Linked DNA regions of Homo sapiens. The protein of the gene in region 3 interacts with the protein of the main gene of each other region in a biochemical or structural test. Each region holds a gene or a part of one and is shown on either strand. Other genes may lie near its edges.

Region 1 (7,576 bases), on a different chromosome or scaffold from region 3:
GCCAGAACTAGACACTGAAACCAACAAAAAGACACTTGAGACCTCATCCAAGGTTTAAAAAAAAAAAAAAAAAAAAGAAGAAACAAAATACAAAAAGCTAATTTAATTCTTTGCTGTCTAATCTAGCACATTAAAAGTGATGGGGTGAAGATCAGAAGTGGGGAATATTAGCACAATGGAATATAGAAAAAAATTATTAGAACTTCATGTTTAGCATTTGGAATGATACTGGTATCCTCGTCACTTTTACTATGACACATTATCAATCATTATAGTTTATATATACTGTTTAAGTGGAGATATAGATTGTATTACCTGGTTTTAAGTATACAACTCTCATTTACAGGTTGAGCATCCTAAACCCCCAAAACCAAAATGCTCCAGCAAGCATTTACTTTGAGGATCATATTGGTCCTCAAAATTTGGATTTGTTTTGTTTTCTGAGACAAAGTCTCACTCTATCGCCCAGGCTGGAGTGCAGTGGTGCAATGAAGGCTCACTGTAACCTCTGCTTCCTGGGTTCAAATGATTCTCCTGCGCCTCAGCCTCCTGAGTAGCTGGGACTAGAGGCAGGCACCACCATGCCCAGCTAATTATTGTATTTTTGTAGAGATGGGGGTTTCCCCATGTTGGCCAGGCTAGTCTCGAACTCCTGACTTCATGTGATCTGCCCACTTTGGCCTCCCAAAGTGCTGGGATTACAGGTGTGAGCCACCATGCCTGGCCTAAAATTTGGAATTTTGGATGGTCATCCTGACTTAAACTGGCAGAATGACACATTCCTGACCTCTAATTTAAGCACATCACCAGGTAGATAAGGCAAAAACAATGAAAATTTACATGTAATCTGACAAGACTGTGTACAATCTGGCCAAATAATACAAAAATCAAGGTATCATATACCATTCAAATTAAATTATGAAACTTGCTTTATATACTGATCCATTAGATATCAACTAATAATAATGCTGTCAGACATATACTATGTATTATAAGTACTGCATTATTTCTTTTTGTGAATATCTTGAGACATATTGTACATGTTCATAAATATATAGGACAAATGCAAGCTTATTTCTTAAAAAAGTTAAGTAGGCCGGGCGTGGTGGCTCACACCTGTAATCCCATTATTTTGGGAGGCCGAGGCAGATCACCTGAGGTCAGGAGTTCGAGACCAGTCTGGCCAACATGGTGAAACCCCGTCTCTACTAAAAATACAAAAATTAGCTGGGTGTGGCGGCGCATGCCTGTAATCCCAGCTGCTTGGGAAGCCGAGACAGGAGAATCGCTTGAAGCCAGGAGGTGGAGGTTGCAATGAGCCGAGATTGTGCCAATGTACTCCAGCGTGGGCAACCAAGAGCGAAACTCCATCTCAAAAAAAAAAAAAAAAAAAAAAAAAGTACACATTCAATGCCAGGCGCGGTGGCTCACACCTGTAATCCCAGCACCTTGGGGAGGCCGAGGCAGGCAGATCACCTGAGGTCAGGAGTTCCAGACCAGCCTGGCCAACATGGTGCAAACCTGTCTCTACTAAAAATACAAACATTAGCTGGGAGTGGTGGTGCACGCCTTTAATCCCAGCTACTCGGGAGGCTGAGGCAGGAGAATGGCTTGAACCTGGCAGGCGGAGGTTGCAGTGAGCTGAGATCTCGCTACTGCACTCCAGCCTGGGCAACAAGAGTGAGAATATATCTCCAAAAAAAAAAAAAAAAAAGAAAGAAGGCTGGACGCAGTGGCTCATGCCTGTAATCCCAGCAATTTGGGAGGGCAAGGTGGGCTGATCACCTCAGGTCAGGAGTTTGAGACCAGCCTGACCAACACGGAGCGAACCTCCATCTCAAAAAAACACAAAAAATCAAAACAAAAAAACAAAAAAAACCACACCAAAACCAGAAAACACTTGATTTACTGCACAGTAAATGCCCATACAGCATGCATGGTTTCTTTAAGAGTAAGACTTTGGTTCAAATGTAAGCTCAGCTATTCAATTGCTGAGTGATCTTGGGTAAGTCATTTAATTCCAAGTAAGATGAGAATGAAACCATTTCCACCTATGGAGGGTGTGGTTAAGAGTACAAATGGATAATGTAAAGCACCAAGCCTAAATAGTCGCTAAATTGTAGTTTTTCTTAGAATTACAAAGAAACTGAAACACACTTACGATTGGGCCATCTCCCCTTTCCAAGTATGGCTGGTGGTTAATATGAACAATTGCAGGCAGGAGATACTGTGGAGGGGGGAAAGAATGACAACCTTACGCTTAGAAGTACAATCTTACTTAGATACTTAGTAATTACTGAATTAATGCATAAATAGGAAAGTGAAAAACAGAACTTACCACTGCTATATACAGGAAGCAATACAAATTTGAACATAAAATGCTTCCATATATTTAATAACTAAAATAGTATCTAACTATCTGAATGGCACTTCTACGAAGAACTGAGAACGTATGACAACTAGAATAGCAAAATAAGTTACCACAATATCAAGGATCTTCTCTTGCTCATACATACCGCCAACGTCTTCCCAGAGCCAGTCTGAGCAATGCCCACCATATCCCGGCCACTAAGAGCCAACGGAAATCCCTGGCACTGAATTGGAGTTGGTTCTGTAAAGTGCTGATCCATCAACACATCCATTACATATTCTGTAAGAGAATTTTATTTTGCGTATTTTATTGTGTTTAAAGACACAAACCAAGAGTTTTTAAAAAAACTTTTAAGCTCACTGAAGATAAGATTTACCCAGCTTCATCTCTCCAAAGTGCTTTTTCTTTATCTACTAGATCTCCGACCAACTCACTGTTAGCTTCTAAGGGCCAGGCTAGGTGGCTCACGCCTGTAATCCCATCACTTTGGGAGGCTGAGGCCAGTGGAGGCCAGGAGTTCCAGACCAGCCTGGTCAACATGGTGAACCCTGTCTCTACTAAAAATACAAAAATTAGCCAGAGTGGTGGTGGGCCCTTGTAATTCCAGCTACTCGGGAGGGTGAAGCAGAATCGCATGAACCCAGGAGGCAGAGGAGGTAGTGAGCTGAGATCGCGCCACTGCACTTCAGCCTGGGTGACAACGTTGAGACTCCGTTTCCAAAAACAAACAAACAAAAGCTGCTACAATAGTCTACCTCTCCCAGAAATTTGAAAAACCATTACCCTAAAGCATCTAACAGGACATGGGAACATGGTAGTCATTTATTGTTTAGCAAATTCACATTATATCCAGCTAGAAAGCAATTTCATTCTGCTGTTTTCTAAAAGGCAGAGGGCAAAACCCTAGAAAAAGACAAAAACCTCAAAAAAACAAAACAAAAACAAAACCTCAGTCTAAATACTAGAACAGAACTGATGACCATAAAAACAATCTCTTGTCCTTTCAACAAAACCCCAAGCCTGGCTCAAAGAGTTTAACCTACTACCCTTGTCTCCCATTCAACCCAATTTAACAAATTAAGGTTCTAGATTGAAGAACACTTACGTGGGAAGTTAGCATGATGGAAGGCAAACACGGGTTTAGGACAAACATCTCCCCCCCTCACTGTAATCTCCTTCTTTCGGCGTAGCTCATCAACCTCATACTATTGAAAAAAAATGAAAGAAGTTAGTAAACTAGTTATTCTAAACATTCAGAATTTATGTTCCAAGCTAGCTGAGCAATTATCCAGTCCACAGCTATGTTGGCAAATATTTAATAGTTTACATGGTACTTTCATGTGTATCACTTTAACTCTGCAAGGCTCCTACTTACTTTGTAAGTTAATTAATGATGTAGGTGATTAAGAGTTCCATTTTCTATAGGAGAAAAAAGATAAGTAACTTGCTCAAGGTCAGAATGAGAAGGAAAAAAAAGTGGAACTTGGACCCAAGTACTCTTTCCATTACACTTTCTTCTGAAAGAGTAACCATTTCATGTGTAGAGTCCAAAAAACAATGGTAATGAGGTACAAGAAGAGACAATGTTGGCTGGGCACGGTGGCTCCCACCTGTAATCCCAGCACTTTGGGAGGCTGAGGTGGGTGGATCACTTGAGGTCAGGAGTTTGAGACCAGCCTGGCCAACATGGTGAAACTCCGTCTCTACTGAAAAAAAAAAAATAAATAATAAATGAACCAGGCGTGGTGGCACATGTCTGTAATCCCAGCTACTCGGGAGGCTGAGGTGGGAGAATTGCTTGAACCTGGGAGGCAGAGGTTGCAGTGAGCCAAGATCATGCCACAGCACTCTAGCCTAGGGGACAGAGTGAGACTTCACCTCAAAAAAAAAAAAAGCCAATCTATCTTTTTCACTAACAGATGAAAAAACATGACCTAATATACAATATTTCAATCATGTATAATAAACAGATTAGTAAGCATTATCAACAAGAGAACAAATTAAATGCATATTTAAACTGGTCCCCTTTTATGAGTATTAGGGGTCTTAGATAAGAATGTAAGAAAGGCTGGGCATGGTGGCTCACACCCATAATCCCAGCACTTTGGGAGGCTGAGGCGGGCAGATCACAAGGTCAGGAGACGGAGACCAGTCTGATCAACATGGTGAAACCCTGACTCTTGCACTCCAGCCTGGGTGACAGAGCAAGATTCCGTCTCAAAAATAAAAAGAGGCTGGGCGTGGTGGCTCACGCCTGTAATCCCAGCACTTTGAGAGGCTGAGGCAGGTCGATCACCTGAGGTCCGAGGTCCGGAGTTTGAGACCAGCCTGCCCAACATAGTGAAACTCCATCTCTGCTAAAAATACAAAAAATTAGCCGGGCATGGTGGCGGGTGCCTGTGATCCCAGCTACCTGGGAGGCTGAGGCAGTAGAATCGCTTGAACCCAGGAGGCGGAGGTTGCAGTGAGCCAAGATCACACCATTGCACTCTAGCCTGGGCAACAAGAGCAAAACTCCGTCTCAAAAAAAAAAAAAAAAAAAAAAAAAAAAATCAGCTGGGTGCAGTGGCTCACGCCTGTAATCCTAGCACTTTGAAAAGCTGAGGCAGGTAGTTTGCTTGAGCTAGGGAGTTCAAGACCAGCCTGGGGAATATGGCGAAACCCGGTCTCTACAAAAAGGAAAAAAAAAAAAAAATTAACCAAAAAATTTTTTAAGAAAAATATCACCACACTAGAATAAAATGTAAAACGGCAACAGTAGCGTATGAATAAACTCTAACCAATATATCTACTTGGTTCAATAATCTGTACATTAAAACACACATGTAAACTTACTGGTGTCAGCCTTGCTACTTCCGGATGTTCCACATAAAAATTTTTCTCAAACTTGGGGAGCTCACTCAAATCCCACTTTTTTTTACGCAAACGCTCCCCAGGATTACCAAATTTCTTCGGGGGAAGGCCACCACCACCTCTTGCTCCAAATCTAGGAACAGAATTTTTAGTTAGTTCATCAGTATTTTTAAAGCAACGTATCGTACATGCCATAAGAATATTCAAAAAGGATGGAGTTCTAGGGATACTACCAGCCTACCTCCAAAAAGACCATTTTATTTGCTGTGATTTAAAGGTATGGAGAAATGTGTAAAACCTCCCTTACTACCCAACAATAAATACTGTTTATGAATATAGCTACAATAGGCAAAAAATTAAAAATCCCTTTATTGAGAGAAATACATCCTAGGGATTACAATCACAGATTCTGGATCCAGACATGGTTTGAGTTTTTATTCTGCCACTTACTGTATAATTTGAAGAGAATTATTTAACTTCCACACACCTTAGTTTCCTATGCAAAGTAGAAATAATACCACTTATTTCAGAGGCTGCTGAGAAAATGACCTAATAATGTGTAATGTACTATAAAAGTATCTGGCATAGCCAGCACTCAGTACAAGTTAGCATCATTTCATTCAACAAATAGTTATTAGGTACCAAGTTACTAGGTACCAAGTATGTATCGGCTACTGTTTGAAGTGGTGCTGTGCTGGAGTTACTAAACAAAACAGACACAAGTCTCTATTTTTGTGTAACAGACATGCAGGCAAAGGATGACATTAAGTTAAGTTTCAATTAAAGGGAAGATTGTGGACAAGAAGGAAGATACACTCCAAGCAAGTCCCTCAATCTTAGAATAGCTTCTTGGGCCTGCTCCCCTATTAAACTGTGATAAGCACTCCACCTGTCTGCTTATCTGCAAAGCAAAACTGGGTCTTGGAAAGGACTGGTAGACTGGTCTTCATTTTTAGCTTACGCTAATAAAAGAGCTGAGCCTGCCGGGGGCAGTGGCTCAGTCCTGTAATCCCAGCACTTTGGGAGGCGGAGGCCAGTGGATCACTTGAGGTCAGGAGTTTGAGACCAGCCTGGCCAATATAGTGAAACCCTGTCTCTTACTAAAAACACAAAAGAGTAGCCAGGCGTGGTGGTGCACGCCTGTAATCCCTAGCTACTTGGGAGGCTGAGGCAGGAGAACCGCTGGAACTCGGAAGGCGGAGGTTGCAGTGAGCTGAAATGGCACCATAGCACTCCAGCCTGGTAGACAGAGGGAGGGTCCGTCAAAAAAAAAAAAAAAAAGCTGAACATAGATTTATGACCTTTCCTTCTTCTTTGATCTCTACTTTTACCTTCTATCTCCTTCTTGTTCCCAAATGGTATTATTAATTTACAGAGAAAAAAACACTAACAAGACTTATTTAAGGCTTTAACACTCAACTAATTACTTAAGATCAACTTCTTGCTTTTTATATACCTTTCACAACAGACAAGCTCAAGAGGAATACAAATATGACCACTAGCCAAAGCTAATATTTAAGAAATCAGAAGCTACTTTTCCTAGAAGAATCTTAACACTAAGATGGCCTTAATTTTCCCTATTTCGATCTTGTAAAGTACAGGTCTTTGTTTGGCATACAAACTGTATAGCATTTTCTCAGTTTCTTTACTCCTTGTAAAATATTGTACTGAATTTAGTTCCCTTTTCCCACTCTAACCCACTTGTAACTTCATCTTATATAAAGTTCCACTTTATCATTGATAGGCAAGTAGGTGTATTATTCTACAGGGCCTCAATTTCCTGCAATTCAAAGCCATTAGAACTCTGGCTTAACCAGCCAGACATTCCTCTAAATACATACGTAACAAAAATTGATGGCAGGAGATTTTATTGGGATCACTGGATACCTACACTCAACAGGCAGAACTTGGCTAATTCCATTTATACCACTACTGAGACAGTGAAGACAAATTAAGAATCAGAACAGGAAGAGCACATAGCATAGGGATACCCGTGTCAGCGACATATTTAATATGCCCCTCAGCTTAAGACTCAATACTGAACAGACCAAAAGGCCACCTCAATTGCCGCTCCCGCCACACTTGCAAATGAAGCAGCTAAATAAGGTACTTTTCAAGAGGTAGAAAGTCTTTGGATTATCACTCTTGCAAATTATAAAAGACTTCATTGTTATTGCCACATTGCAATGCTACCCAAACCTTAGTGACTTAGGAAAAAATAAAACTTGAAAGTAAGATTCCTGTTAAGGCTTTAAACTGATGATTATCATTCATGTATTTTTTTTTCCTCTCTCCTTACTTCCCTGGCTATTTATTCAAGACATTCTATTCTACACTAAACATTTAATTTGA
Region 2 (8,067 bases), on a different chromosome or scaffold from region 3:
TCTACACCTCAAGAGTCTCACTCACCACTATTATCAATAATCACTCAAGAAATGCAGTTTAATTGCATGTCTCGCAACGTGAGCTTTTTCCAGTCTATCATTTAAGACGCCTAACAACGCTAGCAGGTTTTATTATCTGCATTTGACACGAGAATTTGGTTGAGCTCCAAAGCTGGCACTCTAAAACTCAGCTGTCCCACTTCGCATTATATCTAAACACAGCATATCCTTTTGAAATACGTTGTCTAAAAATGTTTGGTAATTGCACCCAATTTCTAGGCCCCTAAATAGTAGCCTGCAGTGCCCACATAGGCCGGAAATAGGAGAAATGCTGACCAAAAAGCATCACAGAAAAGCTAATGTGGCGCAGACAGGCGACGCCCCAATCCCCGGCACCTGGCATTGGCCAACGAAAAGCTGCCGCTGCTGGGGACACAGATGTAAGAAAATCCAACTTTAATCCCACATGGCATCTAAAACTTAAATTTTTAATCCAAGTTTTATTTTTTCCAAACCCACCTACAATGTTGCCTAGGACTCCTAATCTTGGTGAAGACCCTTACTCTGATTTATAATGAGGACACTTTTCCCTCAACAAGTTTGGCTACTTCAGTTTTTGCAAGGAAGCAGTTACTGGTGAGTTCCCAGAATGAGTCCAACTTTGGACTCAACTGAACACTGCTGCATAGTGCTTGAAACGAAAATTAACTGGTGAATTCCTCCTGATCTAACAGTTGTATGTAATCACAGGCCCTAACTGCAACCACAAAGTCCTAAGGCTCTTGTGCTTTATCCATTAGCCACGTGCCCCGACACCTCTAGAGAACATCACCAGCTCAGGATGGAAGATGAGGCCTGCAGGGCCTGAGCACCACCTGAAGACCTGGGCTCTCTCTGGGCTTGGTTACTTCTCTGAAAAAGGAATGGGAAGGGATCAGAAGCCCTTCTAACCCTCACTAGAGCTGAGGCTACAAAAGTCCTTTTTATAGCAACAGAAGAACTTTATCATCCAAGCTTTCCTGACAAAACACTAACTCCAAGTAGTTTTGAATCCACCTAAGCTTTAATCTAGACATTCAGGCAGGTCTTCAAAGCACTCAGCTAAAGTTTAGTTTTTCTAATGATGCAAAGATCATTAGAAATGATCCCTGCTAGGCCGGGCACAGTGGCTCATGCCTCTAATCCCAGCACTTTGGGAGGCCCAGGCGGGTGGATCACCTGAGGTGAGGAGTTCGAGACCAGCCTGGCCAACATGGATGGTGAAACCACGTTTCTACTAAAAATATAAAAAAGTAGCTGGGCGTGGCGACGGGCACCTGTAATCGCAGCTACTCAGGAGGCTGAGGCACAAGAATCACTTGAACCCGGGAGGCGGAGGTTGCAGTGAGCCAAGACCGCACCACTGCACTCCAGCCTGGGCAACAACAGCAAAACTCCATCGCAAAAAAAAAAAAAAAATCCCTGTTAAATTCCTGCTAAAAGCCAAGGATATTTTGAGTAGTAAGTCTTGAACTTTACAGTTTTAAAATGAGCACCTACATAAAAAACTTTTAAACTTTATTGTTAAGCAGTTTTCCCAACCACTAAAAAAAGAAAATTCACATCATGCATAAGTTAACACCTAAACAGAAGAGATAAACTATATTTCCTGCGTAGACCAGTCTCTCACATTCTGAATGTGCTCAGGCTGGGCCTTCTAGGTGAAATACGGACACTCACAAGAACAGCAAAAACGCATCCATGTGTCAAAATTAAACTTTAACTTAAAGCTCTTATGCAACCTAACTAAAAGATTTAATCTTTCAAACTACATGCACATGTTTTAAACAGTTAATGTGTTATGAAACACATTAAGAAGAAAAAGCTATTAAAAAAATGAAATTGTTAAAAATGCTACAATTTCTTTCTACTTTCTAAGCACTGATCCTCCACTGCCTGAATTTAGCACTTTTCCAAGAAAACAGGCCCCCTGCACAGGAAACCTAAATTATATTATCCTTATCACCATAAAACCTAACAATACCAACTGGGATAGTCAAAGCTTCAAAGTTTTATGGAATTCAATGCTTTCAAAAATAACTGGTATCAGCCATAAACAGGAATGAAGTATCAATACATGTTACAACACAGATGAACTTTAAGCATTATGCTACGTGAAAGCTGATGCAAATGGCCATATGTTGTACAATTCCATCTACATGAAATGTCCACAATAGGCAAATCTATGCGGACAGAACATGGATTAGTAGTTGCCAGGGGCTGGAGGGAGAAAAGTAAGGCGACTAACTTCTAATGAGGACCGGGTTTCCTTTTTGGGTGATGAAAATCCAGAAGGAGACGGTGGTGGTGGTGGCAGAGCCTTGTGTATACACTAGGAAGCACTGAATTGTACACCTTAACCTGATGAATTTAACGGTCTGTGAATTAAACCTTCACATTCAAAAACCGTAATAGTAAAAAATAGGCTGAGTGCAAATACCCCAACAATCTACTTTGGACCCTAGCAAAGCTGAGTTCTATTCGGTCTCAGGTTGGTGTCCTTTTCTTTGGGTTAAGACCTATTTTTTGAACCAGGAAGGAAGCCAAGTAGGTACATTTGGTTCCTCAGACCCGTAGAAGTAGCTTTAAGAGCTTGTCTTTCTCTAGTTGACTTTTAATCCCAATGGCAGAAGCTGAAACGTTTTTCGTATATTTTAATTGCACTTGGCACCTGTACATCTCTTTCCTCCTCCCTGTGCCCTTGACAGAGCTACCTGTTAGGTGGTGACGAGCAAAGCTAACTCTTAGTGGAGGGACACCGAGTACCAGAGAAATTCTCCCAGCCTAGAAGGCGGGAAGAGCACACTACACACCATTTCTCTAAATTCTCTGAACACTCAAGCCCCAAGCAGCATATGTACAATACCTTTAACACATCTCTTGGCTGACTTCTTGCTGGTGGCTTCTAACTCGATGCCAATTTCATCAGGATCTTGCCCCTCTTCTTTAACCGCCTATTAGGGAGAGATGAGTTTTACAACATCATTAAGAGCTGCAGGGCACACACTGTTCCTTACAAGTAACAACCTCCCATGAAACAAAGGCAAACCCGTCCTTGCAAAGAGCAACTCCGGGTCAGCTATCTGGGCCGCAAGCCCAAAAGGCGGAGGAGGAACCCCGCACAACTTGGGTCTCTCTGGGTCCAAATGACAAAGGAGAGGGAGGCTGTGAGCAGGAGCTCCAGAATTGGGGTCAAGGACCAGTTCCAAAATGGCAACTCAACTCGACAATGCCAAACCTTCGACTTTAAAGTTATATGATGGGACAAATTAGAACAGAGAGGCTGCACTTGGCCCGGCCTCGGTGAAGGGCTGGCCACCGCTGGTGAGGAGGAACAGCAGCCAGCCTGGGGAGATTCAACAGGTCCCTCAGTGCCTGCCACCTGCCGGGTCCAGGACTGGGTACCCACAAGCTCCCTCCCTATGCTCAAGTTGTTTGTTCCAGTTGCGGAAACAGACAATTCCCAACCCCTTAATATTTTGCATTTAGCCCCTGCTTTCAGCGAGGTGCGACACAAACGCAGGATGAGCTGGCAAGGAGGTGGGGCAGCGCATTAGGAAGGGCGCTCAGGAAGGTGATGTCTCAGGCAGACCCAAAATGACAACAAGGGGCCGGCCACGAGAAGATCTGGGGGACCCGGGTGGACAGCTTCGTAAAGGCCAAAGCCCTGGGGCAAGAACAAGCACCGCCCCCTTTCCTGTAAATGCTCTGGAGTCCGCCAGACACCCATTCTCCGGAGGAGGAAACTGAGGCACAGAGAGAAAGGCACCTGCCCAAGGTCACAGAGCCAAGGCTCGATCGGGAGCCCCAGGAGGGGTCCCGGGGCCACCCTGGTAGCGGAGAAGACCGCACGCTGAGCGCGCTTGAGGAGAAAAGGTGGAAAGAGGATAGGAAGGGAGGCACAGAGAGGAGCGGTGACGGGCCAAGGTCACACAGCCGGCCCCCTGGGTGCCCGACACCTCGAACCGGGGTCGGCCAAGACGCGGGGCGAACCCAGGGCGCCCCGGGTCCGGGAGCCGCGGTGACAGGTGCAGGCGGGGGCGTGCCCGGGCCTCCTGCGCCACCCCCGAGCCCCGCGCCGCCTCACCTTCTTGAGCCGCTCCATCAGGACGCTCTTGTTGCCGCCCGTGTCCAGGTTCCGCTTCTTCAGCTCCGCCCGCAGATCGATCACCCGCAGCTCGCTGAGCCGCCTCGTCCCAGTCTCCGCAACGCCCGGGCCGAGAGAAGCCGTGCCAGGGCCCGAGTCGCCCGACCCGGGCAGAGTCTCCGCCATCGTCGCGTTCCCGTCTTCGCCACCGACTCAGTCGCACACCGCCGGCAGCTATAGCGGCTCTGAACACAAAATGGCGCCGCCTAAGAGGAAAACGCACTCGTTTCCTCCCGCCCCGCTTTGCGGCCGCGCACGCGCACGCGCACCGCCCCCACTAGCGTACTTAGCAGCAAGGACGCTCGCGCGTCCACCAACCGCGGGTTCCCCGGCACAACGCGCAAGCGCTGAATCTGCAGCTCGCATGCGTCCCGGCAGTTCCCGGCGGGAGGCTGACGAGACGCAACGCGTCTGCGCACATCCCCGCGTTGTTCTCACTGCGCATGTGCAGTTGCAACCGGGATACTAGAACCTACGCTTGGTGCGCCTGCGCAGAAGCGAGGCGCGCTGGGGCGACTGGAGCGGTTCCCTCGCAGGCGGCGCCATTTTGTGCTAGGAGCCTGATAAAACCGGCCCGGTTCTGTGGAAAGTGGGCGGCGGAGCCAGGGTCCCTGGAATGGCGGAGACTCTGTCAGGCCTAGGTGATTCTGGAGCGGCGGGCGCGGCGGCTCTGAGCTCCGCCTCGTCAGAGACCGGGACGCGGCGCCTCAGCGACCTGCGAGTGATCGATCTGCGGGCGGAGCTGAGGAAACGGAATGTGGACTCGAGCGGCAACAAGAGCGTTTTGATGGAGCGGCTGAAGAAGGTGGATTTGGGGCCCCGAGGGCGGGCACAGGGTGGGTCTGGGGTCCTCTTGGCCGCGACGGTGGCTCGCGGGCCCTGGCGTCCGCCCCCGGCCGCGTTCGCGGCCTCGCCGGACCTGGCGCTCTCGCGTCCCCCGGCTCCTCCGAGGCCCCGGAGAGAGTTCCTTGGCCGGCTGGGCCTGGGTTCAAATCCTAACGCCGCAATGGGGCCAGGAGAACCACAAAAACGGCACGCGTGCAGGAGAAACGGTGACGGGTGACATCGTCCACTGAGAGGAGGGTTCTCCCCTCGTCTCGTCCCCTCCTCCGTACCTGGAGGGGAGACCCTGAAACCCTCACTTCCCAGGCGAGGGGAAGGGACTCGGCCAAGGTCACACGGCCGAGGACGGGCAGCGTCGGGATTTGAACCCAGGCCCTGGGATTCCTGATTCGGCTGCTTGGTTTCCCCAGGGAAGATGCTTTGTGACCCACAGGGGACCGACCAGCCTGAATCGGGGCTGATTTACAAAGGAAACACCCGTAGGACATACTCAAAGGGAAAAATAGAAAAAAACCCACCACAATCCAGTTTTCACGGTTTGCCGGTACTCGCTCGGTGAAGTAACGTGGCAGGAAGGAAAAGTGGTGTTGACGGTAGTGATCAGAAATGTGAAATGAGGGGAGACCCCGGGTGGACTTTAAAACCAGCCTCAGAACTGCCCGGGAGGCGGGCAGAGCCTGGGCTCCCCCAGCTCCGTCAGTCTCTCTGGACTTGGGGACCCTGCCAGCTCTCGGTGGCCTGATCTTGGGCATAGGAGACCTTGAACCCCTTCTGAGTCCTCTTTTCTATTCTTTTTTTTTTTTTTTCTCCTGTAAGAAGCAAAAAAGCAATAGGACTTTGATTTGGGGATTAAATAAGTTTGCGTGGAGCAGGCTTGGCGTGCTGCCTGGCGCATGTAAACACTCGGTGTGTGGTTGCCATCACGATTCGCTTTTCCTCTCTGTGCCACCACGAGTCCTCATTTGCAGATCGGGGGCTCTAACGCCTCCCTTGGGGGATTCAAAGGGATCCCTAGGAAAAGCAGAGAGGCAAGTAAAGGTTAGCCACCTGCGGTTTCCTTATTCCTGTAGCTTTTTTTCTCTGCCTTTTTTCCACCTGGCTACTCTGGGACCTCTCCCCTGTAGTTGCTCCGCCTGGCCGCCCACCCCCCAGCCCCTGCAGGCAGTGGGGCTGTTGACACATCCCACCATCCTGACTCCGGAACTACGGAGATCACAGGGCTTTATTATTAATTGGTGATGAGAAGAAGTAGGGATTTTTTTTTTTTTTTTTTTCCTGATGAGAAACCCTGGGCTCAAGGGTGGATAGTTGTCTCGGCCAGAGTCACATGGGCCTTTTAAAAGCTCAAGCTTGTGTTTCTTTTCACTATGGATTCTCTTTACTCAGATAAGGCAGGAAGCCCACTGATCTACATATTTACCCAGAGAAAATGCAGAGAGTGGAGATTGGCGGCTGGTCAGGTGTGGTGCCCCGCCACCAGGGCCTCCCATCAGCTAAGCCAAATTAAGAGGCTTTATCCTTTTTTTCTCCCTGGACGGTCCATAGGCCTGAAAAGCTGCTGTGATCTTCCTGTCAAGCTGGTGACTGAGACTTCCCATCACTCGCTGTCATCTCTGAGAGCACAGATTTGTTCCTTCTTCCTTCTCCTTTTCATTTTCTTCAAGATGTGGTCCCAAAACACGAATACCGCCAGCCCATATCCCTGTCTGCCACTCACCCAAGCCAGTCTGGAGTTCCTGATCTCATTCTCTTCCCGTTTCTGTCATCCTGTTGGTGTCCCTTTCTTGGTTTATTTTTCCAGGAAGGGCAAAAGAACAAAAAGGGGAAACAGGACACCTGCCTAGGGCATTGCTTCTCTTCTCCTGGTGGTGTTTCAGAATTGCCTGTCCCCGGGAAAAGGGTGAGGGACTTGGTGATTGTACTTTTCCTTGATCCCAGGAAAGAACTTCAGTCCCTTTTCTGGCTTCTGAGAGGAGAGATTTTTGTTGCTGCTGGTAAAGATGAGATGTGGAACCCCCAGGCCCTATCTCAATTCAGACTTACCCACCTGGGAAACTTGGAGGCTTCCAAACCTCTGCAGATAAAACATAGTACATGAAATGATGTAAACAAAACTTGTGCTCATGGGACTGGAGAGTAAAGACTGGAAAAGTTATCAGTAAAACTTGACCTGAAGCTAAGTTTCTAGGGACGTCATCGTGATTGACGTGTTCGGTACTGATGGCTTAGTTGATGCCAGGCACTGTGCTGAGGATGGGCATAGTTGAAGTGAGTGACAGAGTCCTGGGGTGGGAGGCTGGGCGTGCCAAGAAATTCTTATAATTCAATATCCGATGAGGCACAATCACCTAGTGGTTGAGAATGAGGTACTGGAGTCGGTTGTGAATGTACATGATGGGGATCGGATGAGGTCATGCATGTCGTGACGGGTCTCGTGCGTAACACATAGTAGGATCCCAGTCAGCGAGCATTAGTATTCTGTCCACACAGTACTGAGTACAGGCACGGCGTGGAGGGAGTCCCTGGAGGGTTAAAGAGTATTTTGTGAGTAAAGTCAGGGGAAATGGAGAGTGTGCCTTTCCCTTTTTGAGTTCTTCTGGGCTTAGGAAGGAGATGAACCAGATAAGCCTACTGTTTGTTGAGTGCTTCCTTTTCATGGCTAGTAGAGTCCTCACAACAGCCTTCCAGGGTAAGTACTGTATTATTATTAGCCGCATGTTCCAGAGGAAGAAGCAAAAACTGAGCACCTAAGTAAACCTGCCTGGGACCACCCAGCTAAGAACTGGTGGCGTCAGTCGGTCTCCAGTGTAGAGCGAGATAACAGATGAGTGGATGGGCCACAGGTCCTGGGTGGTGAGGGCGGCAGCAGCTTTTTGATCTTAAAAATACAGTTTCCTTGTCACCTGAGAGCTCTCTGAAAGCAGTGTGTGAGCTGACTTTTTGGATCAACTTTACTTTTCCCTTCTTTTTAGGCAATTGAAGATGAAGGTGGTAATCCTGACGAAATTGAAATTACCTCCGAGGGAAACAAGAAAACA
Region 3 (7,576 bases):
AAAACCAAGGGCACAACAGTGTGTATTCTGTGTTGCTTCTTGTATTAGAAAAAAATGATACATTCTCATCTTGTTATCTGTATATGAAACTGGAAGCATATACAAAAAAACCTCACGAAGTCATTACTTCTGGGAACAGTGTAGATGGGCAAGAGTGGAAATTAAGACTTCCTGATACATAACTTTTATCTTTAATTTCTGAATAATGCATATGTATTATTCATTCAAAATATAAAGTTTAAAAAATAAAGAGAGAAATTTAAAATTTCAAAAAATATTTATTGCTTTCTCCTGTTTAGTTTTAGCACAAGCTCCCAACCTACCTCCTGGGGGACGGAGATCTAGAAGATTTCCTTTTTATGGTTTTTGATGTTCTTGGCGATCTGGAAGAACTCCTGCTCCTCCTCCTACGCCTTTCCCTGAAAATCAAAAACACATCATTTTTAAAAACAGCAATTGAAATAAACGGCAATTCAAATATACAAAAGCAAAAGGGTCCTTGATATTCTCATATGAACAGTATTCTTTAGAGGCCAGTTTAAACTTATGTCCTTTATGAGCATGTTCAATTACCTAACTTTAGAGTGGGTCAAATTATGAACCATAAATTTTACAGACTGATGAAAACATCATCTAAGACTTCATATTAGGAAGAGTAGAAGACCTCCTCCTTTTCACCTCGTTTATTTGAACAATTTCTTCAGTAGAAAAAATATTAATGGCGTGGCGTTTCTGCTTCTCTCAAGTGTATTTTCTCAGCAGCTAAAACAAGTTTTGCTTATCAAATCCTTTGTCATGTATCTAGCTCCTTGCTGCCCCACTGTGGATTATAACAAAGTAACAGGCCCTTTTCAAAAACTGAAACATAAACTGGCTTGTAAAATGTGAACTTTCTATACCCAATTATCAACAATGTCTACTTAAAAAGCATTTACATTACTATCATTTTAGAGAGAAATTGCTTTTCCCTCCAACCTCCTATCATTTCATTACTGTTGTTCTATTAATTTAAAATTTAGTGTACAAGTTGCTTAGATGTAAGCAAAACAGTTACAATCTGAAAAGTAAATATGACAGGAATAATTATAAAATAGATTACGTTATTATTATTAAAAACCATTTTGCTTATCAGATTAGCAAATGATACATATTCTAAACTACTTCAACTCAGAAACAATGAACTTCACTAGGTCTATAATTTAAGGGATATGGTACGAGGACATACCCAATGATCTATCTCACAAGTTCTGATAATCAGTGACCACATAGCTAAAAAACCAAATCCTCTGGAATTCATGTTATCCTTACCATTTCAGGAAACTGATTCTAAGAGACTAATAAAATAATTTAAGTTTTTCATTTCTAAAATAAAAAATGCTCACACGGTATATATAATATGTATTAAAATACAAAGCTCAAGAACTCTGAGAACACAACTCAATTCTACCTCTACCTAAGACTCTCTCCTCCATTACCCACTTTTATTCCCAAGACACTCCACAATTACACTTCTAATGTGGAAATTAGATACATTATTTGATTACATCAATGACATTCTCTTAACAGCTCAGCCTAAGAACCAAAAATACTTTTTTCAAAGCATGTGAATGTCAGCGTATTCCAGACTTTAAGATTACACAAAATCGCTCTGCCTTTATCAGTGTAATTCTTTTACTTATTTGTTCAGAAAGCACTATGTACAAGTGGATGTCTAATACCTACTAGCTGACGATAATGAGAGGAAAGTCTCCATAGACAGCAATCTAGACAATTACTTGAGAAAGAAATTGTATTAACAACTAAAGTTGGTGAGATTTAGACTTAAATTTGAGTTATACACCTTACCCAGCTATACAACCAGGATCATATTACTTAACCTAATCTGTTTTTCAACTGAAAAATAAAGACAATTAATAATTCAAGTTTTATTAGGTTGTTGAGGATTTAGGATAAAATCTGTAATGTGCAAAGCATAGAGTGTGACACAGAGTAGGTGCTCAATAAATATTGTTTTTTCCTTCCCTTTCTTGGTATCACCTTTAATGACAGTAAATTTAAGCATTAAAAAATTATTTAATATCATTTTCTTTAAAAGTATAAATTAGGAGACAATGTTAGAAATAAAAATATTAACTATTTTTTGAACAGTTAAAATATTCTCCATTTAGTAAACAAATCAGAACATTTGAAAAGCAGAAAAATGCTAAAAGACAAGAAATTGTAACTCTTGGCTGGGGGCGGTGGCGGCTCACGTCTGTAATTCCAGCACTTTGGGAGGCTGAGGCGGGTGGATCACCTGAGGTCAGGAGTTTGAGACCAGCCTGGCCAACATGGTGAAACCCCATCTCTATTAAATAAAATACAAAAATCAGTTGAGTGTGGTGGCACACGCCTGTAATTCCAGCTACTCAGGAAGCTAAGGCAGGAGAATCGCTGAACCCAGGAGGCAGAGGTTGCAGTGAGCAGATATTGTGCCACTGCATTCTAGCCTGGGTGACAAAGTGACACTCTGTCTAAAAAAAAAAAAAAAAAAAAAAAAATTCAAAGAAATTGTAACTCTTTACCAAGCTCTTCTGAAAGCATGAAACATTCCAAACTGCTGCCTTTATAAACTAATGTCAGTCATCTTTTATTCTCAAGGCCCCAGTTGTTACTGAAGAATGTATTTGAGCCAGGTGCAGTGACTGATGCCTGTAATCCCAGCACTTTGGGAGGCCAAGGAGGGCAGATCACTTGAGGCCAGGAGTTCAAGATCAACCTGGCCAATATGGTGAAACTCCATCTCTACTAAAAATACAAAAATTAGCCAGGCATGGTGGTGCACACCTGTAATCCCAGCTACTCGGGAGGCTGAGGTACAAGAATCACGTGAACCGAGGAGGGGGAGGTTGCAGTGGGTCAAGATCATGACACTGCACTCCAGCCTGGGCGATGAGCAAGACTCTGTTTCAAAAAATATATACATATATATTTAGGAATGAATGTGAACACTTGAACTTTCCTCTACACCAAACAACTTAAAATGGCCCGAGAAAAAGTTAAACATTCCCATGTCATCAAAAAAAGTAAATTCGTTATTAAAAAGGAATGAAAATAGTATTTGGTGCTGTGAAAGGTAATGTCTAAACAATCACAGAAACACAAAGGCATGTGTGACACAGAATCAATAAAATCACTTTGCAGTAAAGGTGTGGTTACAAGGCTCAAACCAGTACCCACAGCAAAGGAGGTTACATTAATTCTTCAATCTGTGGTTCAATGTGCTGAAATCCAGCAGTGATCTGTTTATTTTGAGCCTTGTTTTAACATATACTACTGCTTTCAACTTTATGCTTCTGAGGTAGTTTTTAAAAGTAAGTACAAGTACTAGAGAATTCTCAAACTTAATCTCTAAAATAAAGGAAAAGGGCTACTATACTTCTCATACAGAGCGTCAGCTTCCTCATGTTTTAAAACAGTGATGATAATAATCTTCTCCCAGGCCTGTTGTGAGGATTAAATAAGGTGAGACATGAAAAAGTCTACTGACATCATGTCTGGCATACAGTAAAGTGCACAATAAATGTCTACGATTATCTTTTATTATCTAGTCAAAGGCTGGTATTAAAAATAAACTACTAAAGCACAAGTTTTAAAAATGGGAAACATATATTCCTTTATCTCAAATTATTTTCTATTAAAAAACCATCTTTAAAAATCTTCAAAAATTTGCTAATATATATATTTAGTATTTTTAAGATAGTGTAGTATAAGTTAGGAACTTCCATTTACAGTCATGGTATCATCTGAAGTAAAGGATGTGGGTTTAGATAATCTTAAATCTCAAAAGTTGTTCTCATTGTACAGCTGTTACTATGGCAACTTGCTGCCACCTGGTGGTAGTAAAGCTATTAATAAACTGAAATCACGGTCCTAAGGAAAAACTCTAACCCTTAAAACTGACAAAATAAAACACGACCAAAATTTAAATGTTATGCACTTAACAAAATAAGGATAAAAATTAACTTAGGTGACAAAGAGGGCTAACACTGCAACTTCAGCAATCATTTTACATATTAAAATTAATCACACCATTCAAAAAAAGTTCAGGAAAAAGCCTAAGACGCAAATTCTTAATGTGCTTTTTAAAAAAAGTACCTTTCCCTGCCATCCCACCCTCTAAGAAAATAACAATTATTATTATTCTATTAAAATAGTGGTTACAAAGAATAGCTAAAACTCTTCAAATAATGTTGCCCAGTATCATCTCTTTCCCCACTCTGCTAGAGAAATGTTTACTCTGAAATTAGGAGAAAATGTTCTTATATTACTTTACAGGTTCCACTTGCGTACAGTAACCTTTTCTCCCTCCGTAAAAAATTTTGTTTCCAATTGTCATCAGCAAATCCCTTTGTAAAAATTTTAAGCATTATCAAACCTGCTGGAACTACGAGATCTTCGCGATGCATTGTAACTCCTGGGTGGTGTTCTGGATTTTTTATCCTTCTTTCTTTTTTCATCTATCTCTTTGGATCTGTCTTTTTCTCGTTCCTTTTCTTTGTCCTGTTCCTTTTCCTTCTCTTTGTCTCGATCCTTCTCATGCTCTTTTTCCCGTTCTCTCTCTCTGTCCTTTTCCTTGTCTTTTTCCCGGTCCTTTTCCCGTTCCTTGTCCCGGTCTTTGTTTTTACCCCGTTCCTTTTCTTTTTCACGTTCCTTTTCCCTCTCTCTCTCCTTTTCCCTGTCTTTCTCTTTCACTCTTTCCTTTTCCTTGATCTTTTCTCGAGTGTCTTTTCTCTTGTCCCTTTAAAAACAAAAATAAATAAATTCATAACTAAAATAGTTCTACCTCCTCCAAAAAGACCTCTCTCTCTTCAACAATTACCAACACAAGACAATTTATAGTACCTACAGACATTTACATATACATTTTTATATAGCTCAGGTGTACAAGAAGCTGCTAAACAAAGCTATTCATACTACGCAAGCTGAACTGAGTAGTTTGGAAACCTCATGAGTCACACTGACATCAGATTCAGATCACTGGCAATCAATATTAATCCTAGATTACTAAAACAATAAAAAAGGTTTAATTTCTCTCATTAAAAACCTAAACCACAACAGATTTTTAACAAATGAAGCCAATTAAAATATTATCCCTTAGCACTAACAGAACTCTGAGGAAAAAAAAATTATTGTTAATTTCTCTAAAACTCACCGTGAATGCGAACGACTCCTTGACTTCCGTCTCTCCCTTGATTTAGAGCGTTTTTTATGTGGGCTCTTAGATCTACGTCTGTCTTTCTGTCTTGAACGTGATCTATTATGGGATCTACTCCTAAAGAAAAAAAATTGTTAGAATATCAAAACTTAATTTACGATCTTTCAAACAAGAAAATTTAAAATCTATCCTAACAGTATTTAACAATATTTTAAAAATTTCTCTTAAATAATACTTTAGTTACATAATCTGAAATACATTTACTGGAAACTTTACCGGATATTTCATTGTCTAGAACAGAGACAGAAACAAAGAATTTAACAGTTATTTCGTATATTTTCAGATGTGGCTTTTGCTAGTCATTTTATGCCTCAAATCAGTATAGAAGATTTTTCCCTGTTGACTTGCATGTAATCTGGTCATAACACATCATGACAGGGAGTAGTGGTTACGTGGTTGAGTAGTTCCTGTGAATGTGTGCTGTCTGTCATAACAAACAAAAAGAATATATAAAAGGAAGCACAGTCCTAATGACAGCGCCACTGTGACAGGAAAATAAAAATCATTACTCATAAGTTAAAACTAGATATAATCAAATATTGGATTTGCAATGCCTTGATTTTATAGCTGTAACTATAATCATAGCTACCAGTTGAGTATCCCTTATGTGAAATGCTTGGAACCAAAAGTGTTTTGAATTTCACATTTTTGGAGATTTTCGAATATTTGCATTCTATATATACACACGCATAAAACTGGTTGAGCATCCCAAACACACAACTGAAAAATCCAAAATGCTCCAGTGAGCATTTCCTTTGAGCATCACGAAAGCGCTCAAAAAGTTTTGAAGCCTTTTGAATTTCAGATTTTCAAATTTGTGAGTCTCAACCTGTATGAAAAGAAACTGTTAACTGCAGGAAACGTTTAATTGCAGGAAAAGTAACTGTTATTCCAATTTGGACTAGGCCCCCTTTCTCACTGAAAAAGTTTTTTGAGAATGTGATTTTTTTCATAACGAGGTATCCTAACTGCTTATTAAATTGTAACAAAACAGATGTACACAACTTAAATAGCAAAGTGATTAGACTCAACAGCTTTGGAGTCTGACAATCTGGCTCTGAAAGTCAGCTCTGCCACACGCTACCTGTGAGAACTCTGGCTAGTCACTTAACCTCTCCAAGCCTGAGTTTCTTCCTCTATAAAGTGGAGTAGCAATCATACCTGCATCTCTTAGGGCTGTCATGAGGATTACAACTGATGATGTATGTAAAACTGCGTAGTATTCTCTAGCACAAAATAAATGTTTAAAAATCTTAACTCTCAATGTCATCATCATTAAAAGTTAACATAAATGTAAACTTTATATCCTTATGTACGTATTCCAAGGAAGCTGAATGAACTTCTATAAGTATCCTTTATACAGCTAAAACTCATCTTGATAGTCATGTTTTAATAAATTTAGAACAATTATCAGTAAAAGAAATATAGTTGGGCTGGGCACAGTGGCTCACACCTGTAATCCCAGCACTCTGGGAGGCCGAGGCAGGTGGTACTTGAGGTCCACCTGCCTTGAGGTCAGGATTTCAAGATCAGCCTTGCCAAACATAGTGAAACCCGTCTCTACTAAAAATACAAAAATTAGCTGGGTATGGTGGCATGCACCTGTATTCCCAGTTACTGAGGAAGCTGAGGTGGGAGAATCAACTGAACCCGGGGGGCAGAGGTTGCAATGAGCTGAGGTCGCTCCACTGCACTCCAGCCTGGGCAACACAGCAAGATTCTATCGCAAAAAAATAAAAGAAAAAAGAAAAAGACCATGTTTTGTGGTATGCTTTGAAACCAGAAAAACCTCCAAATAATCCTCATTAATAACAAAATCTTTTGTTTTTAAACACATTTTTCAGTTAGTCAAAATTCTGATTAAAATACTAATCAACATTACAAATCAAAATTTCAATAGCTAATTTCCATTTAAACTACTCATCTACTATTTGGCTGTAAAAATAATATACAATTGTCTTCATTCCATATTTTTTTTTTTTAGCCTCACTTGGTTCAACATACCACATTATTTTTTATTTTATTTTTTTCCAAAGACCCTAGATAAGAAATCACATACCATGTTTTTAATACAAGAAGATAATTCATAGCTTGCTGAAATCTTTATCACTAGTACTTAAGAGCCATGAAAGTTAAGGAGTAGATGTTAAGGCAAAACTGCAAAACTGAGAACATTATTAGTCCGTTTACAGATATCCACATAGGGTAATCTTTTAAAGTGCCTTTGCTTCTACATACTTAATAAAAAGTCTTACTATAAGATTTCTGTTTTAAGTTGTCCTTGCTAAAAATATAATTCTTTTGTTTTCCTCAAAGCAA

Evidence for each region. The genes of interacting proteins can lie anywhere in the genome.
Region 1: the proteins of SREK1 (region 3) and DDX17 form a complex in vitro, tested with the Homo sapiens proteins (one study listed by BioGRID).
Region 2: the proteins of SREK1 (region 3) and SAFB form a complex in vitro, tested with the Homo sapiens proteins (one study listed by BioGRID).

Annotation. Positions count from the first base shown.
Region 1 is NC_000022.11:38,495,924-38,503,499, forward strand, and holds part of DDX17 (probable ATP-dependent RNA helicase DDX17 isoform 1 precursor), read right to left. Parts: intron 5,358-7,576; coding exon 5,207-5,357; intron 3,577-5,206; coding exon 3,477-3,576; intron 2,651-3,476; coding exon 2,517-2,650; intron 2,228-2,516; coding exon 2,162-2,227; intron 15-2,161; coding exon 1-14. UniProt on the Homo sapiens protein: As an RNA helicase, unwinds RNA and alters RNA structures through ATP binding and hydrolysis.
Region 2 is NC_000019.10:5,618,404-5,626,470, forward strand, and holds the start of SAFB (scaffold attachment factor B1), read left to right. Parts: upstream 1-4,679; 5' UTR 4,680-4,802; coding exon 4,803-4,991; intron 4,992-8,001; coding exon 8,002-8,067. Other genes in the region: SAFB2 (scaffold attachment factor B2), read right to left, coding at 2,906-2,993, 4,127-4,312. UniProt on the Homo sapiens protein: Binds to scaffold/matrix attachment region (S/MAR) DNA and forms a molecular assembly point to allow the formation of a 'transcriptosomal' complex (consisting of SR proteins and RNA polymerase II) coupling transcription and RNA processing.
Region 3 is NC_000005.10:66,167,789-66,175,364, reverse strand, and holds part of SREK1 (splicing regulatory glutamine/lysine-rich protein 1), read right to left. Parts: intron 5,315-7,576; coding exon 5,195-5,314; intron 4,781-5,194; coding exon 4,418-4,780; intron 420-4,417; coding exon 324-419; intron 1-323. UniProt on the Homo sapiens protein: Participates in the regulation of alternative splicing by modulating the activity of other splice facors. Inhibits the splicing activity of SFRS1, SFRS2 and SFRS6. Augments the splicing activity of SFRS3.